2 linked regions of the Homo sapiens genome follow. The protein of the gene in region 2 purifies or fractionates together with the protein of the main gene of each other region. This does not show direct contact. Each region holds a gene or a part of one and is shown on either strand. Other genes may lie near its edges.

The links.
Region 1: the proteins of SFMBT1 (region 2) and GSE1 purify together in Homo sapiens (affinity purification with mass spectrometry; one large-scale study listed by BioGRID and IntAct). This does not show direct contact.

Annotation. Positions count from the first base shown.
Region 1 is NC_000016.10:85,672,322-85,674,510, reverse strand, and holds part of GSE1 (genetic suppressor element 1), read right to left. Parts: intron 2,107-2,189; coding exon 1,972-2,106; 3' UTR 1-1,971.
Region 2 is NC_000003.12:52,927,376-52,931,399, forward strand, and holds part of SFMBT1 (scm-like with four MBT domains protein 1), read right to left. Parts: intron 3,661-4,024; coding exon 3,566-3,660; intron 3,056-3,565; coding exon 2,954-3,055; intron 967-2,953; coding exon 816-966; intron 1-815. UniProt on the Homo sapiens protein: Histone-binding protein, which is part of various corepressor complexes. Mediates the recruitment of corepressor complexes to target genes, followed by chromatin compaction and repression of transcription.

The sequences.
Region 1 (2,189 bases), on a different chromosome or scaffold from region 2:
GTGAGATTTTGCCCTGATAGTTTGTAGCAGACTCCCTCTGAACACCTGTGGAACATGCTGACCTCCCAGTGTCTTTCGAGGGGAGGCCTGCAGCACAGCCCCTCGAGTTCTCTTCCAGCTGCTTCTGTGGAGAGGAAGGTGCTTGTTGACTGCTGATAATACTGGCGGTACATTCGTCTGAGTTTGCTAATAACTGGAAGATTCTTGGCAGACGTACAAAGCAAACTGTGCGGGGGCAGATAAAGCGACACGATGCCAGCTGCCAGCAAGCTGTTCTGCGCAGCAAGGGCTAGGGCCAAGGGCTCGGCTGCTGGTCACAGCAGTGAGCAGCCGGCACACAGGTCAGGCACCCTGCCCTCAGCTCAGGCCTCCACCCCCCAGACCAGTGACTGGCAGCCCTGGCCTCTGGTGAGGGCCCTTGGGAGCAAGAGAGGCCTTCTTGATCTAAACACTGCCTCCATAGGCAGTAACTAGGACAAGGAGGAAGACTCGCCCGTTGCTTTGCCTTGGTGTGATGAGCCCAGTTTCTGACCGTTCCTGTGCTTGTCACAGTAAGTTCAAAAAGGAGGGGTTCAGCTCAGACCTTGTGGCTTTTACAAAGCTTTGCGTTTAAACAAAGCCTCTGAAGTTCCTATTCTGTACCTGCTCTCAGACACCTTAGAATTATATCAATCACAGAAATCATTGACTTCCTGAAAGGTTTTTAAAAGCCCCCGCCCATGTGTGCACATGACTGTCACACATGGGTTCTACAGACTACCCCCTCCTCCCTTGATAGCAATGGGTAATATTTGCTATTAGCTTGTCCAGATGCTGGGGGCAGGCAGGGGGAGTGGAGGAGGTAAGCAGTAGCGCATGGCTTTCTACGGCAGCTTCTGGTGCAACTCAAACTAAAAATGAAGTGATCGCATAGGCGCCAGTGGTAAGCTCTTTTACTTTTCTTCTTCTTTAATTTTTAAAAACACTTCAATATTTTAATGTCCTGACCAGCAGCAGTACAAACACTAAAAGCAAGGTTTTTTTTTTTTTTTTGCCCAAAAAAAACCAAAACAACAAACAAAACCCCCAAACAGGAAAAACAAACAAAAATCCCCCAAACCACATATTAAAAATGGCAGGCTTTTTATAACAATAGTTAAAGTAATAAAAACATACAAAACTTTGTTTTTTTTTTAATATATATACACAGTACAAGGCTGAAGCACCTTTGACTTTTCTCTCAAAATTTACGTCTGTATGAAAACCCAACCCACTGTAGTAACAATCTGGTGGGTGTGAAGCTGTGTATACACAGAGCTCTGTACATGCTCCCCACGGAGTAATAAAAAGCTACCTTCAGTTTGTGAATTGGTTTTATCTTTAGGTAAGAAAGAGCTTTTCCAGGGAAAAGCCTTTGGGTTGCTTTGTGTGCTCCTAGGACTTGTTGCTTTGAAGAAAATTTTGCAGGAAAGTAAAATGAAACAAATAAGCCCTTTTTACTGACAATGCACCCAACCTTTTCAGCTGAAGCAAGTTTCACTCCTGGGGAGGAATGAGACTGGCCCCATCGCTGCGGCAAAAGCAAACTGGGCTTGAGGCATAGTAACATGGCAACACAAGAAAGAACAGAACCGGTTTGATCCACTCATATGCACAGGGGGCTGTTAATGATCAAGTTTTAGTGTTGCTAATGGAGCCTTCATGTTCAGATTAAGAAATAATGTGGGAGAGGAAGGGCGAAAACCACCTTTAAAAAGAAAAACTGTGGGCAATCCTACATTGGTTGCTCGCTGAATGACAACGGTGATTCAATTGCATTGACGTCAAGGTGAGTTCATTCATTTTTTCTGGAGCCTGGAATCCTTTGCTTCATGCATGGCACATTCTCATTTTGTAAGCTTCAAACCTCCCAGTGAAAAATATTAAATATTCAAGGTAATAAAATAGATAATATTTCTATACTATAGGTTCGGCCTAGTGCAAGGGAAACCGTCACCTGGGATATCCCTTCAGGTAGCCCCTAGGCCAGTGCATTGCAGGCAAGGCAAGGCACTTTCGTAAGTGGTCCAGTTCTGCCTGGAGCCGCTCCCTTTCTGAGACCATCTTCTGTTTCTGGCTCCTCAACTCCTGGAGAGAGGGAAATTTGTGTCAAAACCAACCCGTTTCCTCTGTAAGGACAAGCATGTAGAGTACAAACATGCTGGATGGAA
Region 2 (4,024 bases):
GTTCTGAGTTTATGACCCTTGTTAACAAGAAAGAGTACTTCCAGCCCAGTGTTCCAGCAGTCACCATTTAGAAAAGTGATGCTATGCTTTACTGAAAACCTACTAATAACATATATAGACTGCCAATCAAATAATCTGATTTGCTAATATTAAAAAATCAGATAAACATCTGACATATTCTAGATTCTCTAAGTTTAAAAATATTAAAAATTTCAGTCAAGCTCAACTAACCCATTAATTAAGGGCCTTGATTAAAGGATCAAAGACTATATTTTGCAAAGTTGCAAATATCAGGAAAATGAGCTTTTATTTTCCTACCTACTCCCTGAGTTCTACTCTTCACCATAAACTTCTCTGTAGAAAGTCCCCTCCATGACAAGGCTCAGACACCTAAAGATAATCAGTAATCTACCTTCTAACTCTGGCTCTACGGCCTCTTCTCACAAGCCAGCCCCCAGTGCTTGCTGTGCATCCAAGCTCACCCCTCTGCCACCCCTAACAGACATAAAAGGGACTAAGGAGCCAGCACGAACCCAGGTTGGAACCTGGTTTTCCAGGGGGTTATGAGGACATAGATATCAAAGTCAGAGGATAGAACGCACTCTCTTTAACAGTTTTTTAGCTCAGTTTGTAACTTTCAAATATGTAAATACATGGAATCTAGACCTTTCCTTATACTTTTCTCAGACCCCAAAAACGTTAGGAACAGGCTAGGGCAGGAGGAGAGGGACAAAAGATTTCAGCAATGCCATCTGACATGTCTCATTTCAAGGAGAAGCTCTCAAGTGACAATTCAGAAGACAGCGAATGTGCACCTGGAGGGGGGCTGATGTGTAGGCCATTCTTCAGACTCCACTGCACAGGGAAGATGCCAGGACTGTCGGCGTGGCACACAAAGGATCGCCGTGCGTGGTTCTCAGGACGCAAGTCATCCATTTCCACCAGAAAGTACTTCTCATCAAAAACCTATACATGCAATTAATAGATGAAATAGACAAATGCACACATATATATGTGCTTTCTCCTTGGCACAGCCAAACATATTACAAAAGTTCATACTCATGTGGGTATTAATAATACTAAACACTAAATGTTAGCTCTGTGTTATGTAATACATATAATTACTGTTTTAATTAAATGCTTTTCATGTATCAATTCAGTTTTAATCTTAACAACTGAATGAGGTAAGTACATATACATATATATACATATATACATATATATACATATATACATATATATACATATATACATATATATACATATATATATATATATACACATATATACATATATACACACACACACATATATATATAGTTTGTTTGTTTTTTTTTGGAGACAGGGTCTTGCTCTCTTACCCAGGCTGGAGTGCAGTGGCATGAATTTGGCTCACCGAAGCACTGCAGTCTTGACTTCCTGGGCTCAGTTGATCCTCCCACTTCAGTCCCTTGAGTAGCTGGGACAACAGGCATGCACCACCATGCCCAGCTAATTTTTTTTAATTTTTGTAGAGACTCGGTCTCCATATATTGCCCAGGCTTGTCTCAAACTCCTGGGCTCAAGCAATCCTCCTGCCTCAGCCTCCCAAAGTGCTGGGATTACATGCATGAGCCACCACACCTGGCCCAAGTACCTTTATCAACTCCATTTCACAGATAAGGAGAATGAGTTCAAACAGAGGTTAAATAACTTGCCCTGGGTTACAAAACAAAGAAGAAGCAAAACCTGGATCCAAAGCCATGTAGTTTGGCTCCAAACAAAATTTATTCTAAGCTTAGTGACAAACTTAGTTTAAGCTTATGCTACTATGTATTAGTTTTTCAAATCCTAGCCCAGTTTCAAATGCCAAAGAACGAACTTTATTTATTTATTTATTTAGAGACGGAGTTTCGCTCTTGTTGCCCAGGCTGGAGTGCAATGGCACAATCTTGGCTCACCGTAACCTCCGCCTCCCGGGTTCAAGCGATTCTCTCACCTCAGCCTCCCGAGCAGCTGGGATTACAGGCATGCACCACCATGTCCAGCTAATTTTGTATTTTTAGTAGAGATGGGGTTTCTCCATGTTGGTCAGGCTGGTCTTGAACTCCTGACCTCAGGTGATCTGCCTGCCCCGGCGTCCCAAAGTGCTGGGATGACAGGCGTGAGCCACCACACCCGGCCAAAGAGATAACTTTATGAACTTCCTCTGGCTTCCCACTAGCCCTCCCTTCAGACTCTAGGTAGGGCCTTCTGGCCCCACCTGCAGGCTCAGAATCCCTCCTTGCTTTGAGAATAATCTTCTTCCAAGACAGGGAAAACTTAAATCTCAATAGGTCAGAGGATTTAGCACCCAGGCAACTATTCCTCTAGTCACATTCAACTTTGGCTTCTATTTTCAGTAAATGTCCTTCTGCTCTAGTTGGAAACTGAAATTCTCTCGCCAATGCCTCAGTTGTAGTGACTGAGCAGGGCCTTGATAACCTTACTTCTTAGTTTTGTCAGTATTCCAAAAGATTAAATCTGAATCTGGAATACATAGCTGGAGCCAGTCCACTGCCAGAACTTTTAACACTAACTGCCTGATCCCCATTCATCTCCTCATTCCAATGAGCTCTGCATCTGGTTAGACGTTGATGAGACTGCCTGCCTCCAACTTTACAGATACCCTGGCCTCCTAAAGGAGTTAAATCTCCTTTACTTATATGCAGCTAGGCCTGCCCCAAAGAATGCGTCCCCTACTAGTCCAGTGCCCAGGCCCAAGGCTGCTTTGGCTAGGGCTACCAAGCTCTGAAGGAGGAATGGGCCACAGCAAACTGGACAAATACAAAACGTGCACAGAAGTAATTCTAGCTGCACGGCCTAGAAGGAAAAATGGGTTGGATCAATAGAGCTTAAAGATCAAAACACTACCCATTTCCTAAACCAGTCACCTTGACAGGGATTCTTACCAAGAGAGTTATCTCCATTTTACCTTAACAACTGTAGCAGGAGAGATCCCAAAAGGAGACCAGGGGTCTACAGCTTCCAATTTCATGTTTACAGAGAATGTATGAATGCCAATAACTTGTTTGTCCTGAAATGCAGACACCAAAAGGGGATGAAAACATAGTATCTGTATCAATCTTACACTCACATGTAGCTGTGATTAACAGAAATGTCCAGCTCTGGTAAATCCTATAGTTTTCTTCTTTTTTTTAAATGTGCAAAACTATCCAATATAATTTTCTACTCTGGAAAAAACTATCCAGGAAAAAACAAAACACACAGAAGTGCTTCTACTCTCTACATTCAAAGACAAGGAATATCTGGAGAAAAAAACAAATTTATTTTATCAGTTAAGACTATGTAGTTAAGGGTAAAAAAGAAAAGGTTCAAACTACTTTAGGAGAACTTGGGGAGAAAATCTAGACAACTGTTAGAAGAAAACAAGGATGATCATCAGTCCAGCCTTAACACACCCTCCTCCTTCAGAGACCATGGCATTCTTACCGACTGCAGGGGCTGCTTTACACTTTCACCTCCTGCGTTGCTTTACTCTACTGTAAGGGGAGCAATACCGGTCTATCACATGTTTTGTTTTTACCTTAAATAAGTAAGATGGTAATGGCTCTTCCTCTTCCTCTTTCACTTTGGCCAAAATCTCTTGCCACTCAGCTTCATTTTTTAGATGTCTAATGGCTTTAATAAAACATGACAACATGCTTTAGATGATGAGAAACTTATACTTTTTACCTGTCCTGAAAGCATTCACATAAACAAAAACAAGTCACTTTCCACTGGAACTAGAAAAGGGTTCAAGCCCACTTATATCCCTTTACATTCAAAGAACTTGCACCTTAACTTCAGTACTTTGCTCTATGCAGAGCCTGGACAGCTTGGCTCTATGAAAATACCTACAGTAAGATCATAATGATTGTTGTAATCCATAAAATTGTAATATAACATCCAAATTGGGGCACATAATAATAAATGCAAATTGATTTAAACAGTAACTCTAGAAATACCAATATTATTGGTATTTCTTTTAATCAACAATTTGCTG